Linked DNA regions of Homo sapiens. Changing the gene in region 2 together with the main gene of any one other region gives a genetic interaction. Each region holds a gene or a part of one and is shown on either strand. Other genes may lie near its edges.

Region 1 (7,243 bases), on a different chromosome or scaffold from region 2:
AGCCTGACCAACATGGCAAAACCCCGTCTCTACTAAAAATACAAACATTAGCCAGATGTGGTAGCGCGTGCCTGTAGTCTCAGCTACTCAGGAGGCTGAGGCAAGAGAATTGCTTAAACCCAGGAGGCAGGGGTTGCAATGAGCCGAGATCGCGCCATTGCACTCCAGCCTAAGCAACAGAGTGAGACTCCATCTCAAAAAAAGAAAAAAGAAACCAGGTTTTTAACGTGTCCCAGATACCTTAGCTTTCTTTGTGTCCTGATTGAGGGGTATTATAAGGGAAATGTTATCTGTGGGACACTTTAACAAAGATCTACAAAATAATGATAACAATGTCAGCACTTCCCAGTTACTCAATTTTATCCATCAGTTTCATCCTTCTGCTTCTCATAGCAGGATCTTCAGGAATCAGCTCTTTCTCTTTCTACTTTACCCTATACATACTCCTTTTTTTTTTTTTTTTGTGAGACAGAGTCTCGCTCTGCGACCCAGACTGGAGAGTGCAGTGGTGCGATCTCGGCTCATTGCAACCTCCACCTCTTGGGTTCAAGCAATTCTCTTGCCTCAGCCTCCTAAGTAGCTGGGATTACAGGCACCTGCCACCATGCCTGGCTAATTTTTGTATTTTTAGTAAGAGATGAGATTTCGCCATGTTGGCCAGGCTGGTCTCGAAACTCCTGACCTCAAGTGATCTGCTCACCTTGGCCTCCTATACATACTGAGCCACCGAGCCCGACCCCTATACATACTCCTAAACGTTGCTCAATCTCTCCCCAGAGTTCTTCACCCACTCTCGAGTCTCTATCCTCTTGCTTCATTTCAGTCCATCTCAGTTTATGACACATTACTGTTTGGGTTCTCAATCATTATCCCAAGAGCCACGATGACTTTTACTTAGACCAAAGTCAAGTTCATCCTTACAACCCACAAGTGAGGTTGATCAGAACCCAGAGAGAAGTTTAGCAAAGGAGGTTAAAACGAAGTAAATAATTCCAAACGGTATCTTGAGAAAACTAAATCCTCATTGCTGGTCTGCCATGATCATCACTAATATCAAACAACAAATGTTGGAAACCGCAATGCCCATATGGCACTGGATAAGTTACGAAACCTCTCTTTGCTTCTGTTCTCCCATCTGTCTTGCAAGAACAATAGTGCTCGCTCCCTGGCTCCTAAAGGTATCAAGACAGGGAAAGCTTTTTTTTTTTTTTTTTTTTTTGAGACAGTGTCTTGCTCTGTCGCCAGGCTGAAGTGCAGTGGCGCAATCTCAGCTCACTGCAACCTCCACCTCCCGGGTTCAAGTGATTCTCCTGCCTCAGCCTCCCAAGTAGCTGGGAGTACAGGTGCGCGCCACCACACCCAGGTAATTTTTGTATTTTTAGTAGAGATGGGGTTTCACCATGTTGGCCAGGATGGTCTCGATCTCTTGACCTCATGATCTGCCTGCCTCGGCCTCCCAAAGTGCTAGGATTACAGGCGTGAGCCACAGCGCCTGGCTGGAAAGCATTTTTTAAAAAACAAAACAAAAACAACAGTGTCTTAAAATAAGACTAAAAAATTGTCAAAATAAATCCCTTGACAAACTTATTAAAAAACAGAGATCCAGGCCTGATATCAGATGTTAATCATGCATCTAACCAAATAATATCTTAATTTGGGAGTAGGAGGAGTGCAGAGGGGAGTGGAGGGGGCTTTACTATATAACCAGAAATCTAGGCTAGAATTGTGGCTGTAAATTCACTCTGGCATGACCGAACAGTACCAATGCCAAGAGTAGCACTCAGATGATGCACCAAAGCCCCCCCAAAATCTAGAGTTTCCTGGATGCTACCACCAGGATCCAGTCATGGCAACAGGGATCTTAAAGGTGTAAATGATTAACCTTCAGGATGGCTCACCTAGACGTGCAAACGTTTGAAAAAGCTAAGCTCTCTACCAGGGTAACCCATTGGCTCTCATCTCTTAGATTTCGTAAGAGTTTTACCTTCTGGGTAACATTTCAAAGCCCTGCTAAGATTAGTATCTACACCTGAACTCTGGACCATGGCTCCCTTCCAGCCACTATCTCTAGGCTGTCAATCGGGGTTAATTCGCTTTTTTTTTTTTTTTTAATCCTGTACTCTAATCATAGGAATTTCAACCAAGTTTCAGCTGGCTTCTGCATCTCACACTCCAGCAGGGACACAAGCCCGAAGGAAGAAAGGTGCCCGTCCATCTCCAGGCCGGCTTTCCCCACCTTTTTCCTTTTTGCTTTCCACCTGCATGAAGTTCCCTCTAAAGGTGCATGTCATTTTCTGGCCCTTTAAGTCCCGACACCCCATCCCACTCCGAGTTCCCTTCCATCCTCCGCACTTTCTCCCTCCCCACTTGCAGTTTGCCTCGACCCCCTCGGGGAGTTTCTCGGTCCCTCTCCGGGCGTCTTTCTGCACCCGTACCCTTCTCTCCGCAGAGCGACTCCGGCCTTGCTTCCTCTCCCCTGCCCTTTCCCCTCCCCACCACACCGCTGCAGCAGACGACCCCGTCCCCACAGCCGGCGCGTTCCCTGACCTCCCCTCCGCCCCTCACCTCGGCCCCCTTCCCTCGCGCCCCGGAGCCCCGGCCTCCCCACCCCGCCCCCGGGTCCCCCCACGCCGACCTCGGCCACTCCCTCCCGGTCACTCACAGGAGGCCGGAGCAGGTGGTGCACACGAAGCTGCCCACGGTGATATCCACGTAGGTGACCCCGCGCTGGGCGCACTCGAAGCAGTGGCGGTTCCCGGCCTGGCTGCAGCCACCCAGCTCCCGCACCCGACGGCACCACACCTCCGAGGCCGCCTCCGCCTCCGCCTTGCCCCCGCTGACCCCGCCGCCCGGGCCCGGGCCCTTCTTCGCCGCCATCACCATCGCTGCCCACTCCCTCCCCGCTAGTCAGCAATCACCCCTTCAACCACTGCCGCCTTCCCGCCTCCTCAGCCGCCTCCGCACGCCCGGCTCCCCTGACAGAAGCTCGGGAGCGGGCGGCATCCGCAGGAGACTTCGCCGTCCACCACCCTCCTTGCCCGTCCTGCACACTGATTGGCTAGGTTTCTCCCACCTCCTTACTCCGATTGGCCCTCCCTGGGACGGCCTCCGGTTGCTGGAGCCGCCAATGCCCCGCCCCACCGCCTTCAGGCCTCAGGCCTCTCCTATTGGCCGGCAGAGACCCCAGCAGCGAGAACCGTGCGTGCCCTCTCCTTGTCCCCGCCCCCTCTCGCCGCTGCCTCCACCGTGGCCCGCCTCCTAGTTCCGATTGGTGAGTCCTCGGCACTCGGGCTCCGACGCTAATTTTGATTGGCTGGCGGGGCTGCAAAGTTAGCGCGCGAGACAGAGGAGGTGCCCCGCGCGTGCGTAGCTGTCGTCCTCCCGACTGATGACGTTAATTCCCGGCAAATTTCAAAGGCTTACTCTAGACTGTGTAGAGTGTCATGCAAAGCCGAAGAGAAGTGGCCATGTGAGGGGCTGAGCAGGAGGGGGAAAGAAGAGAGCGCTTAAGGGAGAGAGGGAGAGGGAGCAAGAGTGCTTTACTAGACCAGTGCTCTAATTCCTGAGCCACAGAGCGAAGGGAGTGCTTTATAAATGTCATTTCATTCGCTCCGCCTATCCCAGAGGTGGAATCCCCATTTTACACCCTTAGGTTCAACAACTTGCGGCAGATCACACGAGTGCGTGGCCCAGGATTCCACTCTGGGTCTTCCAACTTTAGAAACCCTGCCTTTAACCCTCCTAGTAGGTGGACTATTATTCGATTATTCATTTAACAAACACTGAGTGTCTGCTAGGTTTCAGGCACGTTCTAGACACTGGGAATAGAATACAGCAGCGAAGCAATCAAACAAAATATTCTTATAGAGCTTAGTTTCTAGTAGGGGGAAGCAAACAATACACAAATTAAAGAATCACCAGTTAGTAATAAATCCTACGCAGAGAATTAAAATCACATCTTGGAAAAGACTTTTTGGGTACTTTTTTAATTTTTTAATTTAATTTTAATTTTTTGAGATGGAGTCTCACTCTGTTGCCCAGACTGGAGTGCAGTGGCACGATGTCAGCTCACTGCAACCTCTGCCTCCTGGGTTTAAGCAATTCTCATGCCTCAGTCTCCTGAGTAGCTGGGATTACAGGCGGCCACCACCACCCCCAGATAATTTTTGTATTTTTATTATTATGATTATTATTATTTGAGATGGAGTCTCGCTCTGTCGCCCAGGCTGGAGTGCAGTGGCACGATCTCGGCTCACTGCAAGCTTCGCCTTCTGGGTTCACGCCATTCTCCTGCCTCAGCCTCCCGAGTAGCTGGGACTACAGGCACCCGCCACCACGCCTGGCTAATTTTTTTGTATTTTCAGTGGAGACGGGGTTTCACCGTGTTAGCAAGGATGGTCTCGATCTTCTGACCTCGTGATCCGCCGGTCTTGGCCTCCCAAAGTGCTGGGATTACAGGCGTGAGCCACCGCGCCCGGCCAATTTTTGTATTTTTAGTAGAGACAGGATTTCACCATGTTGGCCAGGCTGGTCTCAAACTCATGGCCTCAAGTGAGCCTCCCGCCTTGGCGTCCCAAAGTGCTGGGATTACAAGCATGAGCCACAATGCCTGGCCACCTGTTGGGTACTTCAGATTGGGTTGGTCACCATTTTTAAAACAATTACTTTTTTTTTGAGACAGGGTCTCGCTTTATCACCCAGGCTGGAGTGCAGTGACACAATCATGGCTCACTGCAGCCTCAACCTTCTGGACTCAAGTGATCCTTCCACCTCAGCCTTCCAAGTAGCTGGGAGTACAGCTGTGCACCACCATGCCTGGCGAATTTTTAAAAATTTTTTGTAGAGATTGGGTCTCACTATATTGCCCAGGCTGGTCTGGACCTCCTGGGCTCAAGTGATCCGCCCACCTCAGCCTCCATCTCCCAGGTTCAAGCGATTCTCCTGCCTCAGCCTCCCAAGTAGTTGGGATTACAGGTGCGTGCCACCATGTCCAGCTAATTTTTGTATTTTTAGTAGAGATGGGGTTTCACCATATTGGCCAGGCTGGTCTTGAAGTCCTGACTTCAAATGATCCACCCACCTTGGCCTCCCAAAGTGCTAGGATTACAGACGTGAGTCACCGCACCCGGCCTCTTTTTGTTTTGTTTTGTTTTTTTTGTTTTTTTTTTTTTTTTTGAGACAAGGTCTTGCTCTGCTGCCCAGGTTGGAGGGCAGTGGCACAATCATACCTCACTGCAGCCTCAACCTCCCCAGTTCAAGTGATCCTCCCACCTCAGTCTCCAGGGTAGCTGAGACTACAGGCGCACACCACCATGCCTGGCTAATTTTTGATTTTTTGTAGAGAAGGGGTCTCACTATGTTGTCCAGGCTGGTGGCTGGCAGCCTGCTTTCTCTCTCTCTCTCTTGTTTTTTTCTTTTTGAGACAGGGTCTTACTCTGTCACCCAGGCTGGAGTGCAGTGGCACAATCTTGGCTCACTGCAACCTCCACTTCCTGGGGCTTGAGTGCTCCTCCCACCTCAGCCTCCCGAGTAGCTGGGACTACAGGTGCATGCCACCATGCCCAGCTAATTTTTTGTATTTTTAGCATGTTGGCCAGGCTGGTCTCGAACACCTGAGTTCAGGTCATCTGCCCGCTTTGGCCTCTCAAAGTGCTGGGATTATAGGTGTGAGCCACCGCACCCGGCCCCATTTTTCAATTAATGGCACCATGAGCCACCTAGTTGCCCAAAGCAAAAATCTAGAGCTACTCTCTTCAATACGGCAGCCACTAATCATATGTGGCTATTTAAGTTTAAATTAAATTAAAATGGGCTGGGCGTGGTGGCTTATGCCTGTAATCCCAGCATTTTGGGAGGCCGAGGCAGGCGGATCACGAGGTCAGGAGTTCGAGAAAAGCCTGGCCAACATAGTGAAACCCTTTAATCTACTAAAAATACAAAAATTAGCCAGGCATGGTGGCAGGCACCTGTAATCCCAGCTACTTGGAAGGCTGAGTCAGGAGAATTGCTTGAACGTGGGAGGTGGAGGTTGCAGTGAGCTGAGATCGCGCCATTGCACTCCACCCTGGGTGACAGAGCGAGACTGTCTCAAAAAAAAAAAAAGAAAGAAAGAAAGAAGAAGGAAAGAAAAAGAAAAGGAAAGGAAAAGGGGAGACTAAAGGAGGAGTAGGTTAGGGCAGGGCCTAACCTACTGGGCCATGGACCAGTACCTGTCTGTGGCCTGTTAGGAACCAGGCCACGCAGCAGGAAGTAAGTGGTGGGCAAATGAGCAAAGCTGCATCTGTATTTACAGCCACTACCCATTGCTCCCATTACCGCCTGAGCTCTGCCTCCTCTCAGATCCGCAACAGCATTAGATTCTCATAGGAGCACGAACCCTATTGTAAACTGCGCATGCAAGGGATCTAGGTCATGCACTCCTTATAAGAATCTAATGCTTGATGACCTGTCACTGTCTCCCATCACCCCCAGATGGGACCGTCTAGTTGCGAGAAAACAAGCTCAGGGCTCCCACTAATTCCACATGATGGTGAGTTGTATAATTATTTTGTTATACATTACAATGTAATAATAATAGAAATAAAGTGCACAGGCCAGGCGCGGTGGCTCACGCCTCTAATCCCAGCACTTTGGGAGCTGAGGTAGGCAGATCACGAGGTCAGGAAATCGAGACCATCCTGGCCAACATGGTGAAACCTCGTCTCTACTAAAAATACAAAACTTAGCTGGCCATGGTGGCACGTGCCTGTAATCCCAGCTACTTGGGAGGCTGAGGCAGGAGAATCGCTTGAACCCAGGAGGTGGAGGTTGCAGTGAGCCAAGATCGTGCCACTGCACTCCAGCCTGGTGACAGAGCGAGACTCCGTTTAAAAAAAAAAAAGTGCACAATAAACTTAATGTGCTCAGATCATCCCAAAATCATCCCCCAACTCCCACCCGCCGGTTAGTGGAAAAATTATCTTCCTGGTCCGTGGTGCCAAAACGGTTGGGGACTGCTGGGTTAGGGGGTGCTGATAGGCAGAAATCAGTAGCTTGGTTTTGGACATGTTGATTTGAGATCCTTGTGAGGCATCCAGTGGGCTGATAAGCAGGCAGGTGGATATGTATAGACTGGATTTCCAGGCCAGGCCAGAGCTGGAAATGTAGGTTTAGGAGTCATCGCTTAGAGCCATGGGACTGGTTGCTTAGGTACAGCATGTAGAGAGAGACTAGAAGCAGGCCCAGAAGTAAACCCTAGGCACCC
Region 2 (7,127 bases):
AGACGGAGTCTCGCTCTGTTGCCCAGGCTGGAGTGCAGTGGCGCAATCTCAGCTCACTGCAACCTCTGCCTCCTGGGTTCAAGCTATTCTCCTGCCTCAGCCTCCCGGGTTTAAGCTATTCTCCTGCCTCAGCCTCCCGAGTAGCTGGGACTACAGGCGTGTGCCACCACACCTGGCTAATTTTTTGCATTTTTAGTAGAGACGGGGTTTCACCGTGTTAGCCAGGAAGGTCTCGATCTCCTGACCTTGTGATCTGCCTGCCTCGGCCTCCCAAAGTGCTGGGATTACAGGTGTGAGCCACTGCATCCGGCCTGCCCCTACTACTTCTTAAGTCTTTCACCCACTCGTCTAAATGAAGAAGACAATGGGAAGCCATTGAAGGACTTTTAACCAGAAGGGTCACGATCACATCCACATTTTAGAGCTATTAGTTTGGCTACAATAAGGAGAAGAGATTGGAAATACATGTATTGGAGGCAGGAAAGCAGTTGGAAGGAAGACTGCTATAGTAATTGGAACCAAAGATGATAGTACTATAAGTGATTGATAGTGACAGTGAGGATGGAGAAGAAGGCAAGGATTTGAAAAAGAGGTAAGAGGTAGACTGAGCAAGACTTGGAGTCATATTCTGAGGATTAAAGATGACCTGAAGGTTTCTGACATGAGTGACTTTGATGCTTGATGACACCATTTCCCTAAAAAAGATTATAGAAGGAGAAGTTATTTGATGAATACATTCTGCTTGTCTTTTTTTATTTTTAAATAGTTTTTGGTTATCTTTAGTCAGTTTTCTCTGCCATGTCAAAAAGTATATTGTTAATCTACTTGCATTAATATTTTGTAGGCAAGAAGTAGTCCTGAACTACTGCCTTCTGGTGTGACTGATGAAAATGAGGTGACTACAGCTGTTACTGAAAAAGTTTGTTCTGAACTCGACAATAATAGACATTCAAAAGAGGTAAAAAATGATTTTATATTTACATTGGGGACTTGTAAGGGTGGAAGGACAGGAGGAGGTGAATTATCAGACATTACTTAATGGGTACAATATACATTATTCAGATGATAGATACATCAAAAGCCCCGACTTCACCTTTAGGCAATATAGCCATGTAACAAAATTCCACTTGTGCCCCTTGAATTTATACATATAAAATAAATAAATGTTCTTAATAGCTGGATGTGGTGGCAAGTGCCTGTAGTCCCAGCTACTCAGGAGGTGAAGTAGGTGGATTGCTTGAGCCTGAGTTGGAGGCACTAGGCAACATAGAGGGACCTAATCTCTAAAAATTAAATGATATTTTAAAAAAATGTCCTTATCACTGTTTTCCTCAGATGAATTATACACTATTTTAGGTGAAGGAAAGAGAAAAATATGTTAAGGTGAAGGAAAGAGAAAAATGTGTTAAAGGTGCTTTATGACTAGAGAGATATTTGTTACATTACCATCAGTTGATTTTCCTTTTGTTTTCAAGACCAAGTCTCACTCTGTCACCCAGCCTTGAGTGCAGTAGTGTGATCTTGGCTCACTGCAACCTCCACCTCCCAGGTTCAAGCAATTCTCCTGCCTCAGCCTCCTGAGTAGCTGCACATGCCCAGCTAATTTTTGTGTTTTTGGTAGAGACGGGGTTTCACCATTTTGGCCAGGATGGTCTCTATCTCTTGACCTTGTGATCTGCCCACGTCAGCCTCCCAAAGTGCTGGGATTACAGGTGTGAGCCACCGTGCCTGGCCCATCAGTTGATTTTTCAAAGCATGTGTATGACCTGAATGTGTGTTATTTTATTTTAAAATGTTACCTTTTAAAACTTTGGTTTCTAAAAAATAATTTTAATTTAAAATTATTTTTAGGAAGATCCATTTAATGTAGACTCAAGTTCGCTGACAGGTCCAGTTGCAGATACAAACTTGGATTTTTTCCAGTCTGATCCTTTTGTTGGCAGTAAGTACTCTTTTTTTTATATTATAGATTTACCCAAAAAAAAGACTTTTTAATATATAAACTAAGGATTCAAGGCTTCAGTTTCAATAGCCTACCAACTCAGTCTGTCGCCCAGGCTGGAGTGCAGTGGCACGATCTCGGCTCACTGCAACCTCCGCCTCCTGGGTTCAAGCGATTCTCCTGTCTCAGCCTCTTGAGTAGCTGAGACTACAGGCGCCCACCACCACACCCAGCTAATTTTATGTATGTATGTATGTATGTATGTGTGTATTTATTTATTTATGTAATTAATTTATTTAGAAATGGAGTCTCGCTCTGTCGCCAGGCTGGAGTGCAGTGGCACAATCTCGGCTCACTGCAACTTCTGCCTCCCGGATTCAAGCTAATCTCCTGCCTCAGCCTCCTGAGTAGTTGGGATTGCAGGTGCCTGCCACCACACCCAGCTAACTTTTGTGTTTTTAGTAGAGGCGGGGTTTCACCATGTTGGCCAGGATGGTCTCCATCTCTTGACCTCGTGATCCGCCCACGTTGGCCTCCCAAAGTGCTGGGATTACAGGCGTGAGCCACCGCGTCTGGCCTAATTTTTGTATTTTTAGTAGAGACTGGGTTTCACCATTTTGACCAGGCTGGTCTTGAACTCCTGATGTAAGGTGATCCGCCTGCCTCGGCCTTCTAAAGTGCTGGGATTACAGGTGTGAGCCACTGCGCCTGGCCTGCTTTGTATTTTCCTACTGACTAATGTTGAACATCTTTCTAGATGCTTATTAGCCATTTGTGTATCTTCTTTGGAAAAGTGTTTATTCAATTTTGGTGAAGTCCAGTTATCTATTTTTTCTTCTGTCACTTGTGCTTTTGGTGTCATCTAAGAAACTATTACCTAAGTCGCAAAGATTTAATGCTGTCTTTGTCTAAGAGTTTTATAGTTTTGCTGTTACAGTTAGATCTTTGATCCATTTTGAGTTTATTTTTGTATATGATGTGAGATAGAGGTCGAGCTTCATTCTTTTGCAAGTGGATATCCAGTTGTCCTAACACCATTTGTTGAAAAGACTGTCCTTTCTCCATTTTGTGTTCTTGATACGCTTGTCAAAAATCAAATGACCATAAAGGTAAGGATTTATTTCTGGACTCTTCAATCCTGTAAGAATTTTTTTTTTTTTGCTTCAGTAAAGCTCAGTACCTTTATTTCTGAACTGGTGATGATAATACCCTCCCAGTACTCTTGTGGAGAGTAGAGATTTTGTTAGTAAAATTTTTGCTGTAATGTCTTCCCCTCCATCCGTAACCTCAACTTGTGATCAAGGTAAGTATAGTTGGCTGTATATTTCATAAGGTCAATGACATTCCTTATTTTATCTACTGTGAAGTGAAGTTATTGAAATAAACTTTGCTTTGCTTTTGTTTGAAAGTTACTCTTTAAGTAGTGGTGTCACCACAGTAAATATTGTTATTTGGATTTCTTTGTGTTTATTTTATCACAGGTGATCCTTTCAAGGATGATCCTTTTGGAAAAATCGGTCAGTATCTTATTGAGTTTCATCTTAGCTTTCATTCATTTCTGCTTAATAATAAGCTTATGTTATTTAGGTCTGAAACTGAAGCCCCAGTAAGATGCTCTATGTGCCTGGCATTTTCAGAAAGAGAGTAGTAAATTCTTTTGATTTTGCTTAATGAATTGTTGCTTTACTTTTACTTCTTCTTTTTTTTTTTTTTTTTTTTTTTGGTGTTTTTTGTTTTTGAGACAGGGTCTTATTCTGTCACCCAGGCTGGAATGCAGTGGTGTGATCATGGCTCACTGCAGCCTTGACTTCCTGGGCTCAAGCAATCCTCCTGCCTCAGCCTCCTGAGTACCTAGGTCTACAGGCTCATGCCAGCATACTTGACTGATTTTTTTTTATTTTTTGTAGAGACAGGGTCTCACTGTGTTGCCGAGGTTGGTCTCGAACTCCTGGGCTCAAGCAGTCCTCCTGCCTCAGCCTCCCAAAGTGCTGCGATTACAGACAGGTGTGAGCGACTGTGCCCGATAGCTTTACTTTTTTAAAAATGACATTAGTGTTTAGACTTTGGTGCTTTAAATATTTATTCTGATTCCTCCTTACTAACTAAAGGTTTGGTGAGCATAATGATCTATACTGCTTCAGGGTTTAGAATGTAATTTTGTTTTCCTAAGATTATAGCCCACACGTGTGATTAGAGGCAGAGAATCTTGAAGAATTACTAAAACATCAGGCTTTTTGAGATATTCTTTTTCTGGGAATTTTCATTAGAATAATGCAAATCTTGTTTACCATTTAGTTTTGCATCCCAAACCTGTTCTAAACTATTGGCTGTTAGCTTTGAGCTCAGAGAGAAAAATACATTTAGAAGTTTTTATTGTGTTTTCTTTAGTTACGGTAGCGTAGAATAAGGGGACTTAAAATTGGATCCCTTGAAATTATATGTTAATTTTAAAAATAAGTTTATTAGGTGGAAGGTTCTGTATCTTTTATCAAAATTGCAAAGGAGTCTGTGAAATAAAAAGTACTCAGCTTAGATTCTACAGTATTTCAAACTGTCTTTTTGGATTTTTTTTTTGAGACAGTCTTGCTCTGTTGCCCAGGCTAGAGTACAAGTAGTGCGGTCTTGACTCACTGCAACCTCCGCCTCCCATGCTCAAGCTATTATTCTCATGCCTCAGCCTCCCGAATAGCCAGGATTACGGGCGCGCACCACCACGCCTGGCTAATTTTTGTATTTTTAGTAGAGACAGGGTTTCACTGTGTTAGCCAGGCCGGTCTTAAACTCCTGAGCTCAAGTCATCCGTCTACCTCAACCTCCCAAAGTGCTGGAATTACAGGTGTGAGCCACTGCACCTGGCCCAAACTGTCTTTTTGTTTGTTTGTTTTTGAGACAGGGTCTCACTGTCACCCAGGCTGGAGTGCAGTGGCAGATCTTTGCTCACTGCAGCCTCTGCCTCACAGGTTCAAGTGAGTCTCCCACCTCAGCCTCCCGAGTAGCTGGGACTATAGGTGCGCACCACCATGCCTGGCTAATTTTTGTGTTTTTTAGTAGAGAGGAGGTTTTGACATGTTGGGCAGGCTGGTCTTGAACTCCTGACCTCAAGTGATCTGCCTGTCTCAGCCTCCCAAAGTGGTGGGAATGCAGACGTGAGCCACTGCACCTGGCCCCAGACTGTCTTTTAATTAAGGCACTGATCATACCTTCAAGTGATGGGAAATTTAGTGCAATAATTTTTTTTTGTCTCTTATATTCGTGCCTTATTTTTTTAGATCCATTTGGTGGTGATCCTTTCAAAGGTTCAGATCCATTTGCATCAGACTGTTTCTTCAGGCAATCTACTGATCCTTTTGCCACTTCAAGCACTGACCCTTTCAGTGCAGCCAACAATAGCAGTATTACATCGGTAAGTGGGAGAATTAAAAACTGTTAAGTTAAATGGATAATAAGTGTCCTAAGCAAGTTTCTTGAAATACATAGTGATGAAAGAACCCTCATTTAGATTACTTCTAATGGACCATATAAGAATTTCAGTCTCATCCCAATTCATTTAGTTTTTGGTTCAGACTGGTATTTCATAGTTTGATTACCCACTGGAATTAACTGGAATGACTGAACGGAGTCCAAAAGTGATGTTCATCTTTCAAGAGACTAAATCTTATCCTATTGAGGATACTAAAAATGATTGGAAATTTATAAGCCAATCTTACATAAAACTTTTCTGAAATGTTTGGTATATTATTGAAATAATGAAAATTAAAAGAATTTTAGAAAAATAAAATCGTTTATGTTATTTCATAGACACATCTGGAATGTTAATTCTGCAAAGTACAAATTCTCACTAAATGTCAAGCTCTCTTGAGAATGTACATACCTACAGCAATCACTGTTTAATAACCACATGCCTGATCCAGGTACTGGTGTGTGCTTTACATTCATTGTTTCTAATCTTCACATCAATTTTGCAAAGTAGGTGTTGATATCCCTATTTTAAAAATGAGGACACTGGGACTTAGAAAAATTAACATGTTTAAGGTCCTATAGCTAGTTGCTGTTTTATCTGGAGGCTTTAAAAAAATCTTCATGGCTGGGCGCGGTGGCTCACGCCTGTAATCCCAGCACTTTGGGAGGCTGAGGTGGGCGGATCACGAGGTCAGGAGATCGAGACCATCCTGGCTAACACGGTGAAAACTCGTCTCTACTAAAAATACAAAAAATTAGCCAGGCGCGGTGGTGGGTGCCTATAGTCCCAGCTACTCAGGAGGCTGAGGCAGGAGAATGGCGTGAACCCGGGAGGCGGAGCTTGCAGTGAGCCGAGATCGCGCCACTGCACTCCAGCCTGGGTGACAGAGCGAGACTCCGTCTCAAAAAAAAAAAAAAAAATCTTCATCTTGTGGATATTTAGAAATACTCAAAGGAGAATAATGTAATGAAATATTTTAACAAGCTTCCATGCATCCATTACCCAATTTCAATAGTTAGGAATGGTTTTGCAGGTTTTTGGTTTTGCTTTTTAATTTGTATTTTGAGACTTCGTTTTTGAGACCACAGTTTCATGTCTGTAGGTAAACTGAACCTATAAAGGACCAGTTAACTGAGAAGCATTTGAAGCAAAAAATTTGTCTTCTAGTACTATTAGATTAAGAATATTTCCTTTAAAATGTAATTGATTATTTTAAAGATAATAGGTTTTGTATTATTGAAAGTTGCTTCTTTTTTGTATTCAGTAAAGAGCTGCTTGGCTAAGAACTGGTGTTTTCCATTGAATAAAAACTGGACAGATACCTTCGTGACTGAATATTTTTCGTTTCCCTGGGCTGCTGGATACTCTGTTTTCCTATAGCACTTAGTTTGCAATGTGGACCCATTTGCCAAATTCTTCTAAAATTGCTGCTACTGGAATTCTTCTCCTCTCACCTTCTTATTCTAGCCTCTCATTCTCCTATCATCTAAAGAGCAAGAAAGCTAAATTAGCTCTTCTAATTTAAAAATGAATACATTCCTCTTGTCCTGTCCCCCATGAGATTTTTCTACCATTTGTTTTACTGACTTTTATTCCCAGTTTTCTAAAGGAATATTGTCCTTGCTTTACAGCTTGTAATTTCACCATTCAAAACAAAAAACCAGATTGGCAATATAATAATAGCTGCAGTTTATCTAATTTCCTCTGTGTGCCAGGGATGGTGCC
Region 3 (2,689 bases), on a different chromosome or scaffold from region 2:
AAAGTCCAATTATTGTGCTCTTATAGGGGTTGCACATTCAAGGCTTACACTGAATTCTGTCTGCAGTTCTGTTTTGTGTGACCAGCACAGTGTTTTAAAACGTTGCATTCTGAATCCATCTTTTTGAAATGGGGCATGTACTCTTAAGGTGGCCACTAGCTTACCATTCCCAATTTTTCTTAGTCTCAAACATTCACATGTTTTTCAAGGCCTTGGAGTTGGCAAATCCTGAATATATAGTGAAGGTAGGAAATAGCTCTTCTTATGCCACATCTTAGTCTGATTTTGAAGTCAGTTGTGTAAGTTTGGGCTGACAGTGGTATTTTCCAGTGAAGACTATCGCCAAGAATGCATATCATTCTGCTTATTTTATTCTAGTGGATAAAAATTCAACGTATATTTAAGTGTATTTTTGACATCTGTGCTTGTCCAACACAGGGCTGTAGGGACTGATGAAAAGAGAATGTTGTGATTTGAGCTTTTATAAAAAAAGATAAGTGATCCTAGATAAAATATTTTAGATGGTGATTAAAATGCCCATAGATTAATTTTTTAATCGGTTCTCTGAAATCTTGAGATGTTATCCAAGTTACAATTTAAGCAATGAGAGTAAAATTTGAATTCTAAATTCTCAGCATCTTCCCTCATTCTTGAGTGGAGAGACAGAGGAAGCAAACGCCAAGGAGCCTTCTAATTTTGACTATATGATCATTAACTAAAGGCAGCAAGGGATTGTAAACTAATCTTACATAGTCAATGTTTCATAGAATGCTTTGGTTACAATCAGGTTTTTTAAAGACTTTAAAGGTTTTTTGTATGCTATAATATATGCTTATGATTTCTAAAAATTATGCAGTATACACAAAGGGCATAAAGTCAAAAAGTGTGTCTCCCTCTGTGACTTTATTCTCATACCCCAGAGGCATATAATTTCTTGTATTCTTGTGTAGTCTTTAAGAAATGTTATCGTTTATTTTATATATGGCTCTCTCTCTGTATGCCTCTTCCTGTTCTTATTTTAAATGTTCAAGTTTGTGACTTGGTTCTTGTTTAACTTGGTTGTCTTTCCATATTGCCACCTTCCAGCTCTAACATTAATGTCTCCAGGATTCCATTATATGGATGTCCCTTTGGGAGAACATTTGTTTATAGACTTTTCTACTAAAAATATTGTTATAATGATAATATCCTTATGCATATATGAAGATTACTCTTGATTCTGCCTGACTGGAAACTTTATTAATAAAGTAGACATTATTCTATTTTGAGGCTCACCAGCTGTGTAGGTATGATCTTGTGCTTCCATTTAAGAAATTCTTCCATTTAAAGAAGAAAAAAAATCTCTCTGACTATCTGAAGATATATGAAAAAGCCTATGCTTTTAAATTAAACTGTTAAGACAGTCCATTGAAAGATTGTGGAAGTTCACATCTATTTTGCACCTTAATTTTTTCATTGTCCCTACTCATGACTCTAAAAAGTGCATGGCTTGGGGCTATACTTTGTTTTGCAGTTTGTTGGTATCGTGCCTTTCCTTATCTACATTAGCTTAGACTATACCTTATTTTTAAGAAGAGAAAGTGGAAATTAACTGTGGCAAAACCTATTTTGGCACAACCACATTTGTTCATTATACAAAATTAGCTTCCTATGCTTTAGAAAAAATGTGAGTTATTACTCTGAAAGTTGTGATTCTGATTCCTCATGGTTTGGAGCTCAGAAATTTCTTAACATGTCTTTGCTGTTAGTCAAGCACAGGATTTGTTTTCTGCAAAAGTTTATTTTCAATGAAGAATACTTGTCCTAATAGCTCATAAAAAGTACCTTTGCACTTTAAATCCTAGGAATAGGGAACAAGGAAACTTACTGGGAAGTTCAAAAGAAAGAATAACAGGACCTTCTAGTCAGCAGGGCATGTTTGGAAAATGTTAATACGCCATGATTTTTGAAGACCAATTTTAGTTCAGGAGGTGGTTTTAAATATTGGATGAAAACTTACAGGCTGTTTTCAATATTCATTTCTGAAATACTTTAGTATGATAGATAAATTTGGTTAAGTTCTTGTTCATTGTGAAATACTGTTGGAAGAATTTTTTTCAAAATAAAGACTTCTGAATTTGTGTACCATTTGGGAATAGCCTCTTTCATTTAAATGAGTGTCAAATCTGGAAAATTGGAAGAATATTTGTTCCTTTCATCACTCACATTATGCATTTCTGTAAAGCAGCTCATGCATTTACTTCCAGCTTAACGTGTTTTCCATTAATTAATAAGTTTTGCCATTTTTTTCTGTATTTTTCAATTAAAAAGTCTTCATTTTTAAAAAGCAGGATCTATTTGTTACTTAATTTGCAATATTTTTTTTTCAAAGATGGATTTTTTTTTTTCTGGAGTACACATTGATGGAAGTTGGTTTTAAGAAAGCATTGTAATGGGAATTTACCTACCTTACTACTGTTGAAGTTTAGAAGGTAAATGCTGAACTGTGTTTGTCACATCCCTAATCTTATTTCTCTGTAGTGGTCACTGACTATTATTTGTTATGAGTCCATCTTGATTATTCTGTACATCTTGTTTAAATTATTTTCACTAACCATCACCAGAACACAGAAGAAAATTTTGTTTCCTTAGAATCAATGAGTATTTCCACCACCTGAGGGTGGGGGACAAGGAGGAGAGAACTAATGTT

The links.
Region 1: of EPS15 (region 2) and AGFG2, changing one enhances a phenotype caused by changing the other (phenotypic enhancement), as found in Homo sapiens cells (one study listed by BioGRID).
Region 3: of EPS15 (region 2) and AGFG1, changing one enhances a phenotype caused by changing the other (phenotypic enhancement), as found in Homo sapiens cells (one study listed by BioGRID).

Annotation. Positions count from the first base shown.
Region 1 is NC_000007.14:100,534,987-100,542,229, reverse strand, and holds the start of AGFG2 (arf-GAP domain and FG repeat-containing protein 2), read right to left. Parts: upstream 3,028-7,243; 5' UTR 2,884-3,027; coding exon 2,663-2,883; intron 1-2,662.
Region 2 is NC_000001.11:51,397,250-51,404,376, reverse strand, and holds part of EPS15 (epidermal growth factor receptor substrate 15), read left to right. Parts: intron 1-844; coding exon 845-958; intron 959-1,851; coding exon 1,852-1,942; intron 1,943-3,423; coding exon 3,424-3,459; intron 3,460-5,211; coding exon 5,212-5,345; intron 5,346-7,127. UniProt on the Homo sapiens protein: Involved in cell growth regulation. May be involved in the regulation of mitogenic signals and control of cell proliferation. Involved in the internalization of ligand-inducible receptors of the receptor tyrosine kinase (RTK) type, in particular EGFR.
Region 3 is NC_000002.12:227,559,091-227,561,779, forward strand, and holds the end of AGFG1 (arf-GAP domain and FG repeat-containing protein 1), read left to right. Parts: 3' UTR 1-2,127; downstream 2,128-2,689. UniProt on the Homo sapiens protein: Required for vesicle docking or fusion during acrosome biogenesis. May play a role in RNA trafficking or localization.